2 separate regions of the Homo sapiens genome follow, and region 1 is linked to region 2. Evidence: fine-mapped expression QTL. A gene starts in region 2. The other region holds a variant in brackets. All regions are shown on one strand. Distances are between the middles of the regions. Region 1 has its middle 29 kb from the start of LINC02171. Region 2 holds the start of HTT (huntingtin).

Evidence for each region. PIP is the estimated chance that this variant, and not a neighbour inherited with it, causes the effect.
Region 1: its variant is fine-mapped to the expression of HTT in pituitary (GTEx, PIP 0.96).

What each region holds. Positions count from the first base shown.
Region 1 is chr4:3,701,566-3,713,111 of GRCh38, forward strand. No RefSeq gene overlaps it. Among named protein-coding and RNA genes, the nearest start is that of LINC02171, 29 kb to the left of the region's middle. RefSeq lists enhancers at 1,308-2,215, 2,216-3,122. The variant C/T (reference allele first, on the strand shown) is at 6,606.
Region 2 is chr4:3,068,800-3,080,345 of GRCh38, forward strand. HTT (huntingtin) reads left to right here and starts at 5,882. Exons shown (of 67, transcript NM_001388492.1): 1 at 5,882-6,289. The coding sequence starts at 6,027. It also overlaps HTT-AS and the pseudogene RNU7-33P. RefSeq lists silencers at 4,938-5,557, 5,708-6,147, 6,258-6,327 and enhancers at 6,488-6,717, 6,728-6,777, 9,058-9,197, 10,875-11,014.

The DNA of each region.
Region 1 (11,546 bases), 630 kb after region 2:
CTGGGCCCAGGAAGCTGTCACCTGGCTCCCCATCCAGCTCACATCCTCCTTAGAAAACAAGGCTGGAGGATGCTGGTGCTGTCCTCCAGGGGGCCTGAGAAGAGGAAGCCAGGCGGGCGGGGTGAGCCCCTGGGAAACAAGAGCCATCCCTGCTGTTGCTGGGGTCACCCCTTCCCGCCCTCTGTGAGCCTCCTGCCCCAGCCCCTCCCACGGAGGGCCCGGGAGGCTCCATCTCCAGGCAGCAGCAGCTGCTTTGATCATGGGGTCTCTTCAGGAATGGGAGGATCAGGGTTCCGCTGCAAGGGGCTGTGTGGGGGAGGCTGGGTCCTGGCCCTCTTTTCGCCTTAGTGCGCCCCCCATCCCAGGTCATCCTGGAGCCCCACCGTCCCCTCCAGAAGCGAGTCGCAGCTCCAGGTTGCTACAGAAACAGGCGAGCTCTGGCGTTAGCAGCCTCACAACCCTGGTTCCTCCTGCACCGCTGCCTTTGCGCCTGCCGGAGTTCTTGGTGGGTTCCCTGGGGGAAGGGAGGTAACACGTAACACAGATCAGCACCTGTGGGGCACTCCCAGCTCCCTTCAACTCAGACCGCCTGCTGGTATTTGCACAATTAGGAGGCCCACTTGCAGATGACAGAACAGGCCTGGAGAAGGAGAGCCGCCTGCCCAGCCACACATCTCCCGAGGGCAGGAGAGGACCTCCAGGCTGGCCTCAGTCTCCCTCGGCCGCGATCCCGTGGCCCCCAGGTCTCAGGGGCTCTGGGGTGCTTGGTGTTTGGGCTGCAGGAGATGCTTCTGCTGTGTGACCCCCCTCCCACTGCCCGGACTGACCCCCCTCCCACTGCCCAGACTGACCCTCCTCCCACTGCCCGGACTGACCCCCCTCCCACTGCCCGGACTGACTGTGTCACTCTGGGTGAACCTCTCCCAAGCTGGGCCTCAGTTTCCCCATCCAAAAAATAAGAGGTTGCCCATACGACGGGAGGGCGCCCGTTATGATGCCCGGGTCCCTCCCAGGCACCCCCCATTTTGGTGCCCAACACTCTTCCTTTCCCCCGCTCCTGCATCTGCCTCTGCTCCTATCTCTCCCCGTGGGGTGACCCTCCTTCCGCTAAGGCCGGCAGCATCCTTGGTCCAGCCTCCTGGGGGGAGCTCAGTGCTGACTCCAGGGGCAGGGGCTGCAGGGGAAGGGGTGGGGAGTGCAGAGCTGAGGCCTCCACAGGGGCTTCAGTGCAGGGCCTGCCCCAGGTCAGGGGAGCAGCCCTCGGTGCTGGCCAAGATCGGGGGGCCCAGCTGTCCCTGCGGGGCAGGCCTGGCCCACCCAGAGAGGCCCCACCCCACGTTAGCTCTCAGGTCTGCTCCTTTCCTTGGAGTCCCTGAGTTCTGAATCCAGCCCCCCTCCCCCGTGCTTGGCAAGGGGGGCTCCAAGGAGAGGGAGGAGGGGTGGACAGGAGGAGCACGTGATGCCGTCACGGTGGGGGCTGGACATTTGTCACGACCGTAGAAGGTGCCACACAGACGGGGAGCCCTCGTGCCGACCGTGGGCTTCAGCTAATGGCGACGCGTCCATATGGCCCCTCAGTGCGGCAGACGCCCCCACCGCACCAGTGCACGAGGCACTCGCGGAGCCTGTGGGGCGGGAGGTGTGCGGAGCTGCGTGCTGTGCTTCAGGCCCAGTTTCCCTGTGACCTAAAACTGCTCTAAACACTGAAGTCCATTAATTAAGAGGGGGGGGAAGGGTGAGGGGCAGGACAGCAGTGAGGGTGCGGGTGGCTCTGGAGGAGGGTGGCTGACCTCGGAACCTGTCCCCATCCCAAGGCCATTTGCAGCTTGTCCCTGAGAGAAGCACAGAATGGCACGGTAGCAGCAGAGATGGGGGCAGGGTGGGGGCAGCCGCCTTCTGGAACAGTCAGCCCAGGGCTCTGGACCCCTTCGGCCTCCAGAGGCCCCATCTGGCATCATGGGAAGAAGAGAGGGTGGGGAGGGGAAGTTGGGAGTTCTGCCTGTCAGTGTGGGGGGCTTTCTGTAGCTAATGGGGGCGAGGCCCAGGGTGGGGACTTCAGGGAGAGCTCCCATCACTGTAAGGGATGTTGGGACCTGGCTGGGTTCTGTCAGTGCCAGGCACGTCCCCACCAAGGATCAAACTGCCACCTGAGACCTGGAGAGGAGGGCCGACATGCCAGCCCCACGGGAAGACGGGCCGCGGGGCTGGGCCCCATCCTTTGGAATCTCCCAGGACTCTCCTGCCTCCCTGGGACCAGCTAAGGACAGGAGCCGCTGCCAGAGCTATTACCGGTGGGCGCGGTGTGCAGAGACAAAGGCACTGATGATCTCAGGTTTCTTTAAATGCACCGAGGAACTCAGAGGAAGTGGGCTGCATTTCTCTCTAATCTGTGATTCTGTCAACTTCATTTTTTTCCCCTCTTCCCTGTAATTATCCCATCGGTGGGTGAAAATAAACTCCTGCAAGGAGACAGCCTCCCAGAAGGCGAGATGCCGAGCGGTGGGAGGCCAGGCAGCAGGTGGGTGGGGAGCCGTGGCTGGCGGCTTCCTGGGCTTCCTCGCACCCTCTGCGGTTTGGGAGCAACTCATAGAGTGACCTATTGTCGTGGCTCGCCCAGGACCGTCCTGGTTTTAGCACAGAAAATCCCATGTCCCAGGAAACTCCCCTAGTCCCAGGAGAATGGGGAGGGTGGCCCCTTACACACAGGCTCCTGAGGGTGTCTGGGCTTCCCAGGACAGCTGGCTGGGACCCCACGCCCCGTGTCTGCCTCCTCCGGGCGCCCCCACCACAAGCACACCAGCCTCATGTGACTGGCACTCTTTCCACCTCCCTTCCCTGCAATTCCAGGGCCTCCCCTCAACCTCTTCCCTGGGGACGTCCACGTGGACTCTCTTCCCCAAGGTCCACCCTGGGACTCCCCCGAGCACCACACACTCAACCAATGACCCTCTGAGCCCCCAGTGTCCCCACCTGCTACTCTGCTGGACAGCAAGTGAGTTACACCTTGTGCTTTGGTTTTCCCATCTGTAAAGTGGGAATCATGGTGAAATCTAGCGGTGGGGGTTTTGCAGGGCTTCAGCTAACGAGTAAATCTAAGGTGCTTAGACCCAGTGCTTGTTACGAACAGATAGCGATAAAGATCGCTATTTCTATCACCTCTGCATGTCAAAAGCCACTTACTTCCCATAACCACTTAGAGATTGTTAGTGGAATCTGCATTTCACAGATGAGGCACAGAGAAAGGAAGGAACTTGCTGGGAGGACTGGACCAGTCAGTGCCCACGGCCGGCGCTGCCTCCAGCTCTGTGGACTGTGAAGCCAGGATGACCCTCTGCTGAGGCGCCTCTCGTGTGGGCGTATAATCATCCCGATCATCATTTCTGGCAAATCAAAAACCCAGCACAACCCCACATTGAAGCTCTCAGAAATGTCTCTTAATAGCTCTGATTAAAGAAACACACATGAGCAGGTTAGAACCAGAGAGAATTGATTGTGCTGGGTAGCGGTTAAGCTGTCTCTGTGTTATTTAGCTCTTAAACAAGGAACTCTGCTTTGGAGAAAATATTAATTATTTCTCTTTTTCCTGGCTCGACTCTTAATTGCTATTTTGCGTGGGTGGAGTGGGAGCCTTTTGAGGTGAGGGAGGGAAACTGTTCTCCCCTAAATGGGTCAAACTGCCCTGGGGTTATGATCTCTGCCTCAGGTGCAGAGACGTCCAGTCACATGGCTTACTTGGTGGGGAAGCCCCCTTTCTCCAACCTAAAGCCCCAGGTTGGGAGGTGCAGGCTAGGGGATGAAACACACGCTCCCTCTGCTATAAATGTCCAACCAACTCTCCAGGGCTGTCCTGGTGTTTAGCGGCAGGCAGGCTGCAGCCCCAGCGTCGGTGACTGTGATGTCCACAGGACAGTCCTCCTGGCATTCCTTGACCATCCCTTATCCAGAGATGTGTCCTCCACCCTAAGTCAATCGCTCGCTGACTCCCAGCCTGCCACCTTTCCACTGGGTTATTGGAACGGCCTCTGAGGGGGCCCTCCTGCCGGTCTTGGCCCATGGGCTGCCAGCGGGCTCCAGACCAAGCCTCAGGCTGTGTGGCTGACAATGGGATGGCTGGGACAGTGCTTGGGTCCTTCCAGTCTCGCCCCCGCGAGGCCTGGATTGGAGGTGGGGCCCGGAAGCAGCTCCCATCTGACGCGCCACGTCCTCGCTCTTGCTGCCTGCCTGCTGGGAAGGCAGCCTCCAGAAATGTGCTGCTGACCCCATTTCCTGCATCCCCATCTAATGTGACCTCTTTTGAGCACCTTTTGTAAGCCACAGCCCCCACCCTACACCTCTCAGCCCCTTCCTGTTTCATTTTCCTCCGTGGCACAGAGAAGCGTCTACACAATGGCCCTCTTTTCACCACTTGTCCCTCTTGTCTCTACCTGCCCTCTCCACTAGGACAGAGGCCCCAGGTGCGGCAGCTTCCCTCTGTCTGGTGGGCTGCTGTGAACTAGAGCAGTTCCTAGGGCAGCAAGCGGTTCCAAGCGTCCAGCATGAGATTTGAGCCTCCTCACAACCTCGGCCATGTGAGGGCACATTCACCAGCTCAGGGATCAGGATGTGGACACATCTTGTTAAAGCCACCATGTGACCGTGTCCCTGAAGGACGGCCAGCGACCTTCTGTCAGTTCCTCAGCACAGGTGGGCCCCGTGCTGGGCTGGGTGCCTCATAGCCCTGCCCCAAACCCAGGGGCCTCATGGCCACCATGTTCCTCACGCATCTTTCCCTTCCCGAAAAGCTGTGAGCCCTGATTGCCCGTCCCTGACACTGGTGGTGGAGGACCCAGGCCTTCCAGGGGTCAGGGTGGGGCAGGACTGCTGGGGGTGGTCCCCTAACAGCCTCCGGAAACTTTTGTCAAAGGGAAGGAACTTTGACGGTGGCCACTGAGCTGGTTTAGAGAGGCCTCCAGACCCCCGCTTCACACCTGGAAAGCAGTGATGCCTCCCTACCCTGTGAACACAGGGGCCCTGCCATCCGTGCGGGGGTAGACAGGAGTTTCCCTGCCCACCTCACTGGGCCAGATCCCCTCCTGGTGGCTTCTGGAGATGCTCCCGTCCTGGCAGTGGCTCCAGGTAGGAGCCACTCCCCATGCTGGACACCCAAACCTCCCCAGCCCATCTCGGGGTGTGACCAAGCTCTGTTGCTCCCAGCCCATCCCAGGGTGTCACCAAGCTCTGCTGCCCGACAAGTCTGGGGCCATTGCCAGGCCTGGTGGCCTTGATTTATTGGGAAGAAACATAATACTTTGGAAAATTATTTCCTTCTTTCTTTTTTCCTTTTTTTTTTCTCCAAAGAAATTGGAGAAACCTGTGGTTTGCAAATCTGCTGACCCTGCAGGAGGCTTGGATGGCACCAGCCGGTGTTAGGAAAGCCTGGGCCGAGACAGAAAACACCTAGAGGCAGATCCAGCCCATTTCGGGGAGAAAGTGGGTCACTGTGGGGCTGTCCAAGTAAACTGTGGGCTGGGGAGATGGTGAGCACCCACCATGGGGTACAGGAGCAGACACCACGTCCCTCCTTCAGAAAGGGGTCCAGCCTCACCCTCAGTGCCCATCCAGCTCCCAACATGGTGCCCGTGGGCATTCTGGGTCCCACTGTCCGTGCCTATTCTGGAGTGAGGTCGGCGCCACCTGCCCTGGCCTCAGTTTCCTCATCTGTCACATGGAGCTCCTGCCTGGTTAGGAGAGCTCTGGGTGCTGCTGGCTAGGGTGGACCACAGTCCAGGGACGCAGGGTGCGAGGATGTGCTGGACTCAGGGGCTGTGGCAGTGCATTGGTTTTGGCACAAATGGCCCCAGATAGTGATGGGGGGACTGCACCCCACAAGCCATACCCAGCTTCCTCTGCCGCCACTCCTCTGGGCATGGGGCCTTGGATGCCATGAAGATGCAGGACGCTGAGTCGCTGCTGCAGAGCGCTTCCTGGCCACTCCCTCCCTTCCTTCTCCGTCTGTTTTCCAGCACCTCCTCCTCTGTCCATGCTTAGAGGGTCAGTCAGCTGTGTCCCCGGCCTCTGCTCCCTGTGCACCTGCCTCCTTCCATCCCAGCGCTGACCACAGCCTGGAGCTTCAGGCCCAGTGTCTATCCACACCCTGGACATTCCCCGGAGGCTGCAGGACCTGGAAGCTCAGCTACACTCTTACTCACTCATCAGTGTGTTGGGCCGAGGGAGTCCAAGGCTGCAGGACCGCCACATCTGGAATATCCATGGAGGGGGTTCTGGAGGAGGCTGGAGTGTCTGGGAGCAGAATGTGCCAGTGGCGGAGGGTTGTGTCCAGGGTGGTTCTGGTCATACCGGGCAGAATAGCAGAGGGCAGAGAGCTGAGGCTGCGAGTACAGCGTGTCTGGAGATGGGGTGATTAGATCCATCCAACTTAGGTCCTGGCCGATGGTAGTTCCTGCAGGCAGGGGTGGCTGGCAGATGAGTGCCTGGTGTGGGGCCTCAAGTGTGAGCTGTGGCCAGCGTGAGCCAATTTAGGAGCTAAGAGCGAGGCCTACGGGAGGTACTTCTGCCTACTCTCTCAGAGCACACTGAAGCTGTAGGCTTTGTACCCAGGCCTCTGG[C/T]TCCCAGTACAGGCTCTCTCCGCCCCACGCCCACGCACCCTCCCTCCTCCAGCCACTGCGCTGGGGGCTCTGCTGGCTACACACTGGCTCCATCTGCTCTGGGCTGCATGGCAGGAATTTTTTGGATGACTCCTGTGAGGCAGCAGTCCCTTGGGGAGCCTGTGGTTCCCCCGCCTCTCTCCATTCTCACTCCCGAAATAGAGCCTGGCCCCGCCCTAGGGGACTGGGGGCTGGTGATGGGGACAGCCAAGCCAAGGGCCATGTGGTTGCCTCCGCGGACGCCCACTTCCTCCTGAAACCATCGTGGAGACAGAACGGGGAGGTGGCCAGGGGGCCGGAGCTGCCTCTGGCCTCTGCAGGGTGGAAGGGCCCCCAGAAGTCTTTCTGCCCTCCTGGGACTTGGTTCCTCTTCTTTAAAGGGGAAGGTGATATTCCCCTGTCCACCCTGAATTTACTGCAGAAGGGGTGAACGAACCCACCAGCACTGAAGGGATGGAGGTCCGCAGGGCTTCACATCAGGGAGGGACCAACAGGCCAGCCCTTGCAGATACCCCAGCCCGCCTTCGCTCTGGAGCACTCGGCCCACTAGAGTTTCCCCTCACCACCTGCATCCCATCCCATTCTGCAAGACTCAGTGCAGGATGTCGCAGGTGCTACCTGGAGCCTCTGACCCTGGGGTCTCAAAACCAGGATGGAGCCTCCAGCATCCCTGTGTGCCCCAGAAGGACACCAAGCCGGCAGAGAGCCATGCCCAACCCTCCTGCTGGGACTGCACCCTCCAAGGACCTCAGCCAGTGCTGGTGGCAGCGGGCTGGGCTGCAGGCCTCTCAGCCCCTTGTTGGGCCCTCCCATCCATCCATCCATCCATCCATCCAATTATTCAACCACAATCCACTCCCCCAGCCTTGCACAATCATTCCCCAGGCTACCTACCCACCCACCCACCTGTACATCCCCTCACCCATCCACTCACACATTCAGGCATATAGGATTTATCAGAAACCCACCTGCTCCACCTCAGACCAGCTCAGGTCCCAGGCATGCCAGCACATCTCCAGGCTGCCCGGACTTCCATGATTCACACATTCAAAGGTGAAAGCAAAGATCCAGGCCTCAGAACTGCTCATCACGTCACACTCTTGGATCCTAATTAATATCCAGACTTTGGCCGTGGGAGCCCTCTGTGAATGTGTGGCATGGGACTCCCACTGGGACATGGATTACAAGGGTTTCGCTGCTGGAATCAGCTACTGGGGATGGGGGGTTATGGTAGCCATTGAATTCTAGGACGGAAATGGAGGGAGCCTAGAGACGCCTGCTCTGACATATACGAGCTGTTGCCACTGACTTCTTAGGGCTTCCTTCCATGATATTTATTCAACAAGGAAGTGCTGAGGCCTGCAGTGCCTGGCTCTGGGCTAGGGGTGATGATTCAGCAGGAGCGACGTGTTCGGGACCACCTCCGTCATGGGGGTTGTTCAGGGAGGGGTGCTGCACTCTTGGCTGATTGTCCACACCACGGTCTAGGAGCAAGGCCGCACCCCAAAATGCTGTTTTGTGCTAAGAGGGACCTGGAGGACTGTGAAAAGGAGGCCCCTTCCCACAACCTCCCCAGGTCTGGATGCATTTTGGGGGTAACAGGAGGTGAGAAGGGCTCAAATTAATAATCGGTCTCTGTTTGGGGTTGTTTTGGCTGTCATGGAGTAGGTGAGGGGAGCTGCAGGTACTGTGAAAACCCACCGAGGACCTGGGCCAGGGCCAATGGAGCCCTCCTGGCAGGGGGACGAGCTTCCTGAAGGTCATGGTCAGGATTTCACGCCCCAGACACAAGGAAGCAGCCAGAATCCTCTACCGAAGGCTTGCGGACTCACAGCCTCGTCCGGAGCACTAGCGTGCTCATCCAGGGGAGGAGGCCCGGAGGCCTCCAGCCTTCCTGACCTGAATTTCATTCAACCAAGTTCCCCGCTCCAGGGTTTGCAGGGTGATGATTTCCTAACCCGGTTGCAGAACTTTGCGCTAATTTCTGGGACGCCTCGGGGCTGTCTGCTGCCTGGAAGTCAGAAGGACCAGGACTACGATCTCTGCTCCGCAGAGTCCAAGCTGTGTGACCTTGGGGGCGTGGCTTCTCCTCTCTGAGCCTGCTTTGGTGCTTTCCTCCAGAGAATTGGAGGAGAGAGCTGAGCGGCCCCACATTGCTGCCCTGTAACCATGTATCCAGCACTTGGGACACCCAGAGGGATCAGACTGGACCCATCCCTGCTTCTAGGAGCCCCACCTAGAACACTCACCCAGGGGGCAGAGAGCCGGGAAGCACCGGCCGGGAAGGCGGCTCGTCCAGACTCTGGAAGCGTCTGATCTTCTGAGGCTTCTGCCACAGTGGCCATCCTCTGACAATCCTGCCCACCCACCCCCCGCAGTGGGCTTGCCAGGCCCTTCCCGGCCCTGCTCCTGCCCTGTCCCGGGGAATCTGAGGTCTGCCAGGTTTCCATGGCCACAGCCTCTCTGCTCTGGAATTTGCTAGTCCAGCACACCGCGGTGGGGGAGTGGGAGAAGGCTGTGCCTCCTGTCAGGAGGCATGGAGGGAGGTCACGCCTGACCACGCTCCGCATTCCAGTGGAATTCTAACTCAGTGTGTGCGGGGAGGCACACAGAAGGTTCTGGTCCTCCTTGCGGGGGGCCTTCAGACACAGAGTGGCAGTGGGGACCCTGGAGTGAAGGGGGTCCTGCTGCGGGTTCGCTGTGTTGGTGGCGATGGCCACCCACCCTGATTTTGCAGGTGTGGGGCCTGGCTTGGAGGGGGCATGTGTCCAGGGTCACTCGAGGCCAGCCTGGCCTGTTCTTGCTCCTGCTCTGTGTCACTTATGGCATACCCAACCCCCCTTGCCAGCTCCTCAGCTGCAGCTCCTGGGGTGGCCAGGAAGCTTCCAGATCCACATCCCCTAGGGGTCCCACCAGGGTCTTCGTCGAGCTCCCTGTCTTCCTAGCACCACCCTCCACCGTGCTTCTCCCACGGCCCTGTCAGGCCTCTATCAGGAGCACGCAGCAGAGCAATTTGACATTTTGGGCAAAAAAAAACCGAGAAAATGAGCATCAGCAACATACTTGGTGATGGAGCCGGCTGCTCTGTCTCCCACATGCAAAGCCTGTGCTGTCTGCAGAGTTTGACTGGCCCGTGTGGAGCTGCTCCCTTCCACGTGGTCAGGAGCAGGCTTGAGCTTATCAAGGTCTGGGCATGCTTTGCTCGGTAAGAAAGAGGGTGGGAGCAGACCCCTCGGGCAGAGGAGAAGGAGACCCGCACAGACGCCCCGTCCCGTCCCCAGTGCGGCCGTCTTCGCCCTCTGTGGACCTTCTTGGCCGTGGATTGACTATTCAGAGGCTGCCTGCTCCTCCGCCCAAGGTCTGCTACACGGCGGGCAGGGATGTGTGAGGCTGGCTGTTTGTTCCGGTTTCCCCAGAGTCCAGGCAGGGCCAGGCCCACAGCAGGAGTTCTGACCTATTTGTTCAATGAATGAATGCAGGAATGAATGAGTGAGACCTTGTGCCAGCCCCCGGTGTTGGTGCTTTCAGACCACTCCCTCTCACGGCCCTTGGATGGGGCGTCGTTACCTGGCTCTCGACGTCACCAGTGGTGGAAGTGAGGTGGGCGTACCATGAGGAGTATCACAAAGTTGCCCCAAACCTGCTTTGAGCTATGACGGCAACACCGAGGCTTTTGCTTTAGGGGACACCCCAGAACTCAAGCATCCAACTGTGGTCATCCTGGGGCCACCAGGGGCGGGGCTGTCCAGGGCTGGCCCTGTCTACCCCGTCCCTACCCTGTGGGTCCTCGTCCCAGCTGGCCTCAGCCCAGTGCGCTCCCCTAACCAACGCAGCCCAGAAATCATACTGGGGTCTTCGGATGTTGTCTGTATAGGCAGTCCCTGAGCTGGGAAATGACGGGGTCATATTTGTGGACAACAAACTTCTTCCTCCTCACCCCAAACCAGAGCCTGTGGCAGGGAGAAGGACAGAGCCAGCCCACCCTGCCTCCACCTCCCCAACACCCTCTGCTTCTCCCCATGACCCGGCCACCTGGGGCACATCCTTGCCCTGGGGTGCCTAGCAAACTCCTACACAGACATCAAAATCCAGCAGGCCCCCCTCGACTCAGGGCAGGGACTAGGTCTTCTCTCCTCTGCTCTCTATAGCACAGGGAGGATGGAATATACTGAGGGACAGGATCCCCCCTTTACTGATGGGGAAACTGAGGCCACACCTAGCGCAACAATCTCCAAGTTGCAGAAACCTTGGTAGCTGGTGCTGGAATTTGGAGCCCCTAATTCCAAGCCTGCTGTGGTCCCTTCCCAACCATGCTGCTCGGTTGTATGTGCCAACCTGGCCAGGCCGTGGTCCCCCATGATCCCAACACATGTCTAGAGGTTGCTGTGCCAGTGTTTTGCGATGTGACGCACATTGGCAGTCAGCTGACTTTAAGGAAAGGAGATGGCCCCGCATAGCCTGCGGCAGCCTCATCCAATCCACTGGGGCCCTCGGAGCAAACTCTGAGCCTACGTGGAGGAAGCAGGAATTCTGCCTGGAGACTGTGGTGGAGAAGCCCTGCCTGGGTCTGCAGCCTGATCCGCAGGGGGATCTTGCCAGCCCCCACAACTGCGTGGGCTGATTCCCTAAAATACATGTCTCAACATGGACCTCTCTCCCATCAGCTGTTTCTCAGTGGAGAATGCTGACTGGCACATCAGCCGGGACCTCTCACAGTTGTGGGCCCTGTGACCCTCACCTTGCTCCCATCATCCTGTCCAGCCGCCCACTCCTCCCCCTCTGCCCCGGCCAGTCCCCACACCCAAGCGGAGTTCCAAGACGGTCCCAGCAGCACTGCCCGCTGCTGCCTCTGAGAGCACAGCCACTGCGGGGCCAGCGCAGCCACTGAGGCGATTAGAGTAG
Region 2 (11,546 bases):
GCCTGGCACAATGCCTGGCTAATTTTTGTATTTTTACTAGAGATGGGATTTCTCCATGTTGGCCAGGCTGGTCTTGAACACCTGACCTCAGGTGATCCACCTGCCTGGGCCTCCCAAAGTGCTAGGATTACAGGCGCGAGCCACTGCATCTGGCCTATGTGTGTGTTTATATGGAATTAAAACACATGGCAATAATACCCTCCAAATTGGGAGAAACCAAAAATAGCATTTAAATGTTGTAAGCTCCCTGCATAATCAAGAAGAGAATAGATTTACGTTAGATTTTGATACCTGGAGGATGAATGTTGTAATTTCTAGGGTGACCATGAAAAGAGGAGACAACGGTGTATGTTTTTTTTTTTTTGAGATGGAGTCTCACTTTGTCACCCAGGCTGGAGTGTTGTGGTGTGATCTTGGCTCACTGCAACCTCCTCCTCTTGGGTTCAGGCCATCCTCCCACCTAGGCCTCCAGAGTAGGTGGGATCACAGGCACCTGCCACCACACCTGGCTAATTTTTTTTTTTTTTTAAATATTTAGTAGAGATGGGGTTTCACCATGTTGGCCAGGCTGGTCTTGAACTCCTGACCTCAGGCGATCTGCCTACCTCTGCCTCTCAAAGTGCTGGGATTACAGGTGTGAGCCATCGCGCCCGGCCAACAGTGATCACTTTCAAACTAACAGAGGTTCAAAAATAAAATCAGACTTAACCAAAAACCAGGTAACAGAGCTGGTAGGATATACAGAAAGACTGACCTCACGTATATCAACGATTACAGTTAATATTAATGAAGGAAATGCTCTAGTTTAAAAACGAGGGTTGTCAAAGACCCCACATAAGAAGCTCCTTACCAGCGGTGCACCTAGAACCTAAGGAAACAGGACAGATGAAGGAGGACGCGCCCCCGCCGCTGTCCTGCGCCTCAGCCATCCTATGAGACGGGAAAGGTTTCTGTCTGCAGCTGGGCCCGTGCTCTTTACCAGCTCCTGGCTTTCTTCTCTGGAAGGTTCCTGCCTGTTTTGCCCTCACACCTGCTCCTCTCTCAGCCCTCTCAGGGGTGGGGCTGGAGGCCACCAAAGAGCCTCCTCTGCTCTCCAGTTGCTCGACTGCTCCTCATTTCCCCCTGGGGTCTGCGTCAGGGTTTCCTTCTTTTCCAGCCCCACCCCGCGTGCATCCCACCTGGTCTCGGGTCGGGGCTGCTCCCGCTTACTGCCCCCTGCCCAGGCTGGTGTGCACCCCCTCTGGCTGCTTTCAAGGCCTCTTCTCTCTTCTCGGCAGGACAGGCACAGGCAGGTGGCCAGGTGTCATGCTTAGCTCCCCGCCCAGTGAGATTCTTTCATTTAACAATCTTCCCCTGAATAGTTCATGTTCATTGCTGAAAATTTGAAAAATATGGAAAAGCACAAAGATTAAGATATAAACCGCCCTCAATTCCCCTGCCCAGAGAGAGTCACTGCTATGACTTGGTGACTAGGAACCTTATTTCTCTCTCGCTCTTTTTTTTTTTTTTGAGACAGAGTCTTGCTCTGTCACCCAGGCTGGAGTGCAGTGGCTCGATCTCAGCTCACTGCAACCTCCGCCTCCTGGGTTCAAGCGATTCTCCTGCCTCAGCCTCTTGAGTAGCTGGGATTACAGGCACCTGCCACCATGCCCGGCTAATTTTTGTATTTTTAGTTGAGAGAGGGTTTCATCTTGTTGGTCAGGCGGACTTGAACTCCTGACCTCAGGTGATCAGCCCACCTCGGCCTCCCAAAGTGCTGGGATTACAGGTGTGAGCCACTGCGCCTTCATCTCTCTTCTGTGTATGTGTACGCTGTTTTTTCTTTAGAATGGGGGACGTTATCAGGCTCTACATGGTGTGTAGTCGGCTAGCATGTTGTAAGCCTTTCCCTGTGTCACAAGTGCTCATCTGGAACAGGATTCTAATGACTGCCTGTGGCTATGTTGGGATTCCTTTAACTCAGCTCCTTCTGCCCAGCATCTATCTTTTTTCCATCTTTTGTCCTAAGTGTTGCTATAATAAATCATTGATCACACATGCCTGACTGTTTGCATAGGATAAATTACGGGAAATGTTTTTGCTGTTCAGGGACTGTGCCCATTTTTAGGCCTCAGAGACACCATGCCAGACTGCCCAGTATTGATCTTTACTCTTTTTAGATGATGCCAAACTTTTCTGTGAACTTTAAAAACCTGTGTCTTGACAGTCCATTTCTGTAAGTCTTTCACATTAGATTTCCTGTCAGGATGATAGTCAATTCTAGGCAGATGATGTTTTCTCAGCCATGGCTGAAGCAGTTGTGATTTGTTGTGGCCATGTAAAGTCCCGATGATCCATTGCCTCCCTGGATGGGTTGGAATAATTTGGTTTGGGAGCATATAACAGAATGACCTGGAGTCACAGCAGCTCAGACGGAAGTGTATTTCTCCCTTACAGATGAAAGAATTCCAGGCCAGGCTGGAATGACAACTGCACACAGTCATCTGGGCCCCCTCCTTCCAGCTCCCATCACCCCAGGATGTGGCTTTTATGCAGATGATCCAAAATGGCTGCTCAAGTCCCAGCCAACACATCCCATTCCAGGGAGCAGGAAAAAGGTGTGTCTTTCCCTTCATTTTATGTGATTCCTTTCTAGAAGTACTACTCATTACTTCTGCTTGCATCTCCCTGGCTAGCACTTACTTAGTTATATGGCCATAGCTAGCTGAAGGAAGGACAGGGACTGTCATACACTAGCTAAGAGGCAAACTGCTTAGATAAAAAGGTCTCTAAAGAAGGTCAGAGCGGCTGCTAGGGTGCAACTCTATTACTTATTGTTATGGGACGAACTGTGTCCCTCATTCAGGTTGATGTCCTAAGCCCCAGAACCTCAGAATGGGATTGTATTTGGAGACAGGTTCTTTAAGGAGGTAAGGAGGCTAAAATGAGATCATTAGGGTGGGCCATAATCCGACTGATGTCTTACAAGAAGAGATTAGGACACGGACATGCTCAGAGGGACGGCCACGTGAGGACACCAAGAAAGGCAGCTGTCTGCAAGTCAAGGACAGGGCTCAGGGGAAACCAACCTTGCCAACACCTTCATCTCGGACTTCTAGCCTCTAGGACCATGAGAAGATACATTTCTGTTGTTTAAGCTGCCCGGTCTGTGGTACTTTGTTATGGCAGCCCAAGTAAACAAATACAGTCATCTGCTGCTGGAACAAATCACCCCAGCACTGTGGCTTGGCAGCACACATGTCTAGTCATAGAGTTATATGTAGTTACGTGTAGAGCCATATGTATCGTCACACGTTCTGTGGGTCAGGAATTTGGACCCAGCTTAACCAGCTCCACTTCTCGCCAGGGTTCAGTCAAATACCAGCTGCCTCCCACCTGAGAGCTCAGCCGGGGAAGGGTCCCTTTCCAATCTCACGTGGTGTTGGCAGGATCCAGTTCCTCATGGCCTGCTGGACTGAGAACCTCAGTTCTCACTGCCTGTTGGCCAGAGGCCGCCTTTATGTCCTCGCCATGTGGGCCTCTCCAACATGGCAGCTGACTTCATCAGAGCATCCATGCCAAGAAGGCAACAGAGAGGGCCAGGGAGACTGAAGTCATACCCTTTTGCGACCTAGTCATGGGGTGACATTCCATCACCTTTGCCCATTGGTTAGAAGCAGGCCACCAGGTACAGCCCAAGCTCACGGGGAGGGGTCATACAAGGGTGTCAATACCAGGAGGTGAGGGGTGCTGGGGCCATCTTATGAGTCTGCCCACTGAGGTAACTAACAACCTTGAGGCCTGACACAGTGGACAAAGGCCCTTATTAACAGCAGAGAACTGGGAACTTTATTTATTTATTTATTTTTGAGACAGAGTCTCACTCTTGTCACCCAGGCTGGAGTGCAATGGCATGATCTTGGCTCACTGCAACCTCCACCTCCCAGGTTCAAGCAATTCTGCCTCAGCCTCCGGAATAGCTGGGACTACAGGCATGCACCACTACACCCGGCTAATTTTTGTATTTTTAGTAGAGACAGGGTTTCGCCATGTTGGCCAGGCTGGTCTCGAACTCCTGACCTCTGGTGATCTGCCTGCCTTGGCCTCCCAAAGTGCTGGGATTACAGGCGTGAGCCACCGCACCTCGCTGGAACTTAATTTTTTTAGAGACAGTGTCGCTCTATCACCCAAGCTGGAGTGCAGTGGTGCAATCCTAGCTCACTTGCAGCCTCAAATTCCTGGGTTCAGGTGATCCTCCCACATCAGCCTCCCAAGAACTGGGAACTAACAGCTGTTTCTCTGCTGTCCTTCTCAAGAAAAGGGAGGCTACTGCTACCCCACTGGGGACAATGCTGGGTTTCCCTTTAGGACAGGCTCTGAGACAAGGCGGAGGTGCTGTTTGTGGCCACAGAGCAGGGGACTCTGGGTTGCAGGTGTGGCCTGGCTAAAGTAGGCTTTACTGGGCTCCTCTCTGCCTGCATCACCCCCCGGCTGGGCGGTTGTCTCTGAGGCCAACCTTACTCCCTGCTGGGCAGGCTGGACAGCTGCCCTCTCCGTTTGCCCCTCTACCACCCAAAAGGCAGGAGGCTCTGGAGACCAGGACCCTGCCCGCCACGGCCTGTGTCCCAGGCGTGAGGGGGTGCCCCACAGACCTCTGCTGAGCTGCTGCTGAATGACGCCCCTTGGGGGTCCTGCCGGAAGGTCAGAGCAGGGGTGCACTCCCATAAAGAAACGCCCCCAGGTCGGGACTCATTCCTGTGGGCGGCATCTTGTGGCCATAGCTGCTTCTCGCTGCACTAATCACAGTGCCTCTGTGGGCAGCAGGCGCTGACCACCCAGGCCTGCCCCAGACCCTCTCCTCCCTTCCGGGGCGCTGCGCTGGGACCGATGGGGGGCGCCAGGCCTGTGGACACCGCCCTGCAGGGGCCTCTCCAGCTCACTGGGGGTGGGGTGGGGGTCACACTTGGGGTCCTCAGGTCGTGCCGACCACGCGCATTCTCTGCGCTCTGCGCAGGAGCTCGCCCACCCTCTCCCCGTGCAGAGAGCCCCGCAGCTGGCTCCCCGCAGGGCTGTCCGGGTGAGTATGGCTCTGGCCACGGGCCAGTGTGGCGGGAGGGCAAACCCCAAGGCCACCTCGGCTCAGAGTCCACGGCCGGCTGTCGCCCCGCTCCAGGCGTCGGCGGGGGATCCTTTCCGCATGGGCCTGCGCCCGCGCTCGGCGCCCCCTCCACGGCCCCGCCCCGTCCATGGCCCCGTCCTTCATGGGCGAGCCCCTCCATGGCCCTGCCCCTCCGCGCCCCACCCCTCCCTCGCCCCACCTCTCACCTTCCTGCCCCGCCCCCAGCCTCCCCACCCCTCACCGGCCAGTCCCCTCCCCTATCCCGCTCCGCCCCTCAGCCGCCCCGCCCCTCAGCCGGCCTGCCTAATGTCCCCGTCCCCAGCATCGCCCCGCCCCGCCCCCGTCTCGCCCCGCCCCTCAGGCGGCCTCCCTGCTGTGCCCCGCCCCGGCCTCGCCACGCCCCTACCTCACCACGCCCCCCGCATCGCCACGCCCCCCGCATCGCCACGCCTCCCTTACCATGCAGTCCCGCCCCGTCCCTTCCTCGTCCCGCCTCGCCGCGACACTTCACACACAGCTTCGCCTCACCCCATTACAGTCTCACCACGCCCCGTCCCCTCTCCGTTGAGCCCCGCGCCTTCGCCCGGGTGGGGCGCTGCGCTGTCAGCGGCCTTGCTGTGTGAGGCAGAACCTGCGGGGGCAGGGGCGGGCTGGTTCCCTGGCCAGCCATTGGCAGAGTCCGCAGGCTAGGGCTGTCAATCATGCTGGCCGGCGTGGCCCCGCCTCCGCCGGCGCGGCCCCGCCTCCGCCGGCGCAGCGTCTGGGACGCAAGGCGCCGTGGGGGCTGCCGGGACGGGTCCAAGATGGACGGCCGCTCAGGTTCTGCTTTTACCTGCGGCCCAGAGCCCCATTCATTGCCCCGGTGCTGAGCGGCGCCGCGAGTCGGCCCGAGGCCTCCGGGGACTGCCGTGCCGGGCGGGAGACCGCCATGGCGACCCTGGAAAAGCTGATGAAGGCCTTCGAGTCCCTCAAGTCCTTCCAGCAGCAGCAGCAGCAGCAGCAGCAGCAGCAGCAGCAGCAGCAGCAGCAGCAGCAGCAACAGCCGCCACCGCCGCCGCCGCCGCCGCCGCCTCCTCAGCTTCCTCAGCCGCCGCCGCAGGCACAGCCGCTGCTGCCTCAGCCGCAGCCGCCCCCGCCGCCGCCCCCGCCGCCACCCGGCCCGGCTGTGGCTGAGGAGCCGCTGCACCGACCGTGAGTTTGGGCCCGCTGCAGCTCCCTGTCCCGGCGGGTCCCAGGCTACGGCGGGGATGGCGGTAACCCTGCAGCCTGCGGGCCGGCGACACGAACCCCCGGCCCCGCAGAGACAGAGTGACCCAGCAACCCAGAGCCCATGAGGGACACCCGCCCCCTCCTGGGGCGAGGCCTTCCCCCACTTCAGCCCCGCTCCCTCACTTGGGTCTTCCCTTGTCCTCTCGCGAGGGGAGGCAGAGCCTTGTTGGGGCCTGTCCTGAATTCACCGAGGGGAGTCACGGCCTCAGCCCTCTCGCCCTTCGCAGGATGCGAAGAGTTGGGGCGAGAACTTGTTTCTTTTTATTTGCGAGAAACCAGGGCGGGGGTTCTTTTAACTGCGTTGTGAAGAGAACTTGGAGGAGCCGAGATTTGCTCAGTGCCACTTCCCTCTTCTAGTCTGAGAGGGAAGAGGGCTGGGGGCGCGGGACACTTCGAGAGGAGGCGGGGTTTGGAGCTGGAGAGATGTGGGGGCAGTGGATGACATAATGCTTTTAGGACGCCTCGGCGGGAGTGGCGGGGCAGGGGGGGGGCGGGGAGTGAGGGCGCGTCCAATGGGAGATTTCTTTTCCTAGTGGCACTTAAAACAGCCTGAGATTTGAGGCTCTTCCTACATTGTCAGGACATTTCATTTAGTTCATGATCACGGTGGTAGTAACACGATTTTAAGCACCACCTAAGAGATCTGCTCATCTAAGCCTAAGTTGGTCTGCAGGCGTTTGAATGAGTTGTGGTTGCCAAGTAAAGTGGTGAACTTACGTGGTGATTAATGAAATTATCTTAAATATTAGGAAGAGTTGATTGAAGTTTTTTGCCTATGTGTGTTGGGAATAAAACCAACACGTTGCTGATGGGGAGGTTAATTGCCGAGGGATGAATGAGGTGTACATTTTACCAGTATTCCAGTCAGGCTTGCCAGAATACGGGGGGTCCGCAGACTCCGTGGGCATCTCAGATGTGCCAGTGAAAGGGTTTCTGTTTGCTTCATTGCTGACAGCTTGTTACTTTTTGGAAGCTAGGGGTTTCTGTTGCTTGTTCTTGGGGAGAATTTTTGAAACAGGAAAAGAGAGACCATTAAAACATCTAGCGGAACCCCAGGACTTTCCCTGGAAGTCTGTGTGTCGAGTGTACAGTAGGAGTTAGGAAGTACTCTGGTGCAGTTCAGGCCTTTCTCTTACCTCTCAGTATTCTATTTCCGATCTGGATGTGTCCCAGATGGCATTTGGTAAGAATATCTCTGTTAAGACTGATTAATTTTTAGTAATATTTCTTGTTCTTTGTTTCTGTTATGATCCTTGTCTCGTCTTCAAAGTTTAATTAGAAAATGATTCGGAGAGCAGTGTTAGCTTATTTGTTGGAATAAAATTTAGGAATAAATTATTCTAAAGGATGGAAAAACTTTTTGGATATTTGGAGAAATTTTAAAACAATTTGGCTTATCTCTTCAGTAAGTAATTTCTCATCCAGAAATTTACTGTAGTGCTTTTCTAGGAGGTAGGTGTCATAAAAGTTCACACATTGCATGTATCTTGTGTAAACACTAAACAGGGCTCCTGATGGGAAGGAAGACCTTTCTGCTGGGCTGCTTCAGACACTTGATCATTCTAAAAATATGCCTTCTCTTTCTTATGCTGATTTGACAGAACCTGCATTTGCTTATCTTCAAAATATGGGTATCAAGAAATTTCCTTTGCTGCCTTGACAAAGGAGATAGATTTTGTTTCATTACTTTAAGGTAATATATGATTACCTTATTTAAAAAATTTAATCAGGACTGGCAAGGTGGCTTACACCTTTAATCCGAGCACTTTGGGAGGCCTAGGTGGACGAATCACCTGAGGTCAGGAGTTTGAGACCAGCCTGGCTAACATGGTGAAACCCTGTCTCTACTAAAAATACAAAAATTAGCTGGTCATGGTGGCACGTGCCTGTAATCCAAGCTACCTGGGAGGCTGAGGCAGGAAAATCGCTTGAACCCGGGAGGCAGAGTCTGCAGTGAGTTGAGATCACGCCACTGCACTCCAGCCTGGGTGACAGAGCGAGACTCTATCTCAAAAAAAATTTTTTTTAATGTATTATTTTTGCATAAGTAATACATTGACATGATACAAATTCTGTAATTACAAAAGGGCAATAATTAAAATATCTTCCTTCCACCCCTTTCCTCTGAGTACCTAACTTTGTCCCCAAGAACAAGCACTATTTCAGTTCCTCATGTATCCTGCCAGATATAACCTGTTCATATTGTAAGATAGATTTAAAATGCTCTAAAAACAAAAGTAGTTTAGAATAATATATATCTATATATTTTTTGAGATGTAGTCTCACATTGTCACCCAGGCTGGAGTGCAGTGATACAATCTCGGCTCACTGCAGTCTCTGCCTCCCAGGTTCAAATGCTTCTCCTGCCTCAGCCTTCTGAGTAGCTGGGATTACAGGCGCCCACCACCATGTCCAGCTAATTTTTGTATTTTTAGTAGAGATGGGGTTTCACCATGTTGGCCAGGCTGGTCTTGAACTCCTGACCTTGTGATCTGTCCACCTCGGCCTCCCAAAGTGCTGGGATTACAGGTGTGAGCCACCATGCCTGGCTAGAATAATAACTTTTAAAGGTTCTTAGCATGCTCTGAAATCAACTGCATTAGGTTTATTTATAGTTTTATAGTTATTTTAAATAAAATGCATATTTGTCATATTTCTCTGTATTTTGCTGTTGAGAAAGGAGGTATTCACTAATTTTGAGTAACAAACACTGCTCACAAAGTTTGGATTTTGGCAGTTCTGTTCACGTGCTTCAGCCAAAAAATCCTCTTCTCAAAGTAAGATTGATGAAAGCAATTTAGAAAGTATCTGTTCTGTTTTTATGGCTCTTGCTCTTTGGTGTGGAACTGTGGTGTCACGCCATGCATGGGCCTCAGTTTATGAGTGTTTGTGCTCTGCTCAGCATACAGGATGCAGGAGTTCCTTATGGGGCTGGCTGCAGGCTCAGCAAATCTAGCATGCTTGGGAGGGTCCTCACAGTAATTAGGAGGCAATTAATACTTGCTTCTGGCAGTTTCTTATTCTCCTTCAGATTCCTATCTGGTGTTTCCCTGACTTTATTCATTCATCAGTAAATATTTACTAAACATGTACTATGTGCCTGGCACTGTTATAGGTGCAGGGCTCAGCAGTGAGCAGACAAAGCTCTGCCCTCGTGAAGCTTTCATTCTAATGAAGGACATAGACAGTAAGCAAGATAGATAAGTAAAATATACAGTACGTTAATACGTGGAGGAACTTCAAAGCAGGGAAGGGGATAGGGAAATGTCAGGGTTAATCGAGTGTTAACTTATTTTTATTTTTAAAAAAATTGTTAAGGGCTTTCCAGCAAAACCCAGAAAGCCTGCTAGACAAATTCCAAAAGAGCTGTAGCACTAAGTGTTGACATTTTTATTTTATTTTGTTTTGTTTTGTTTTTTTTGAGACAGTTCTTGCTCTATCAGCCAGGCTGGAGTGCACTAGTGTGATCTTGGCTCACTGCAACCTCTGCCTCTTGGGTTCAAGTGATTCTCATGCCTCAGCCTCCTGTTTAGCTGGGATTATAGACATGCACTGCCATGCCTGGGTAATTTTTTTTTTTTCCCCCGAGACGGAGTCTTGCTCTGTCGCCCAGGCTGGAGTGCAGTGGCGCGATCTCAGCTCACTGCAAGCTCCGCTTCCCGAGTTCACGCCATTCTCCTGCCTCAGTCTCCCAAGTAGCTGGGACTACAGGCGCCTGCCACCACGTCCAGCTAATTTTTTTGTATTTTTAATAGAGACGGGGTTTCACCGTGTTAGCCAGGATGATCTTGATCTCCTGACCTCGTCATCCGCCGACCTTGTGATCCGCCCACCTCGGCCTCCCAAAGTGCTGGGATTACAGGCATGAGCCACTGTGCCCGGCCACGCCTGGGTAATTTTTGTATTTTTAGTAGAGATGGGGTTTTGCCATGATGAGCAGGCTGGTCTCGAACTCCCGGCCTCATGTGATCTGCCTGCCTTGGCCTCCCAAAGTGCTAGGATTACAGGCATGAGCCACCATACCTGGCCAGTGTTGATATTTTAAATACGGTGTTCAGGGAAGGTCCACTGAGAAGACAGCTTTTTTTTTTTTTTTTTTTGGGGTTGGGGGGCAAGGTCTTGCTCTTTAACCCAGGCTGGAATGCAGTATCACTATCGTAGCTCACTTCAGCCTTGAACTCCTGGGCTCAAGTGATCCTCCCACCTCAACCTCACAATGTGTTGGGACTATAGGTGTGAGCCATCACACCTGGCCAGATGATGGCTTTTGAGTAAAGACCTCAAGCGAGTTAAGAGTCTAGTGTAAGGGTGTATGAAGTAGTGGTATTCCAGATGGGGGGAACAGGTCCAAAATCTTCCTGTTTCAGGAATAGCAAGGATGTCATTTTAGTTGGGTGAATTGAGTGAGGGGGACATTTGTAGTAAGAAGTAAGGTCCAAGAGGTCAAGGGAGTGCCATATCAGACCAATACTACTTGCCTTGTAGATGGAATAAAGATATTGGCATTTATGTGAGTGAGATGGGATGTCACTGGAGGATTAGAGCAGAGGAGTAGCATGATCTGAATTTCAATCTTAAGTGAACTCTGGCTGACAACAGAGTGAAGGGGAACACCGGCAAAAGCAGAAACCAGTTAGGAAGCCACTGCAGTGCTCAGATAAGCATGGTGGGTTCTGTCAGGGTACCGGCTGTCGGCTGTGGGCAGTGTGAGGAATGACTGACTGGATTTTGAATGCGGAACCAACTGCACTTGTTGAACTCTGCTAAGTATAACAATTTAGCAGTAGCTTGCGTTATCAGGTTTGTATTCAGCTGCAAGTAACAGAAAATCCTGCTGCAATAGCTTAAACTGGTAACAAGCAAGAGCTTATCAGAAGACAAAAATAAGTCTGGGGAAATTCAACAATAAGTTAAGGAACCCAGGCTCTTTCTTTTTTTTTTTTTTGAAACGGAGTTTCGCTCTTGTCACCCGGGCTGGAGTGCAATGATGTGATCTCAGCTCACTAAAACCTCTACCTCCTGGGTTCAAGTGATTCTTCTGCCTCAGCCTCCCAAGTAACTGGGATTACAGGCGTATACCACCATGCCCAGCTAATTTTTGTGTTTTTAGTAGAGATGGGGTTTCACCATGTTGGCCAGGCTGGTCTCGAACTTCTGACCTCAGGTGATCCACTCGCCT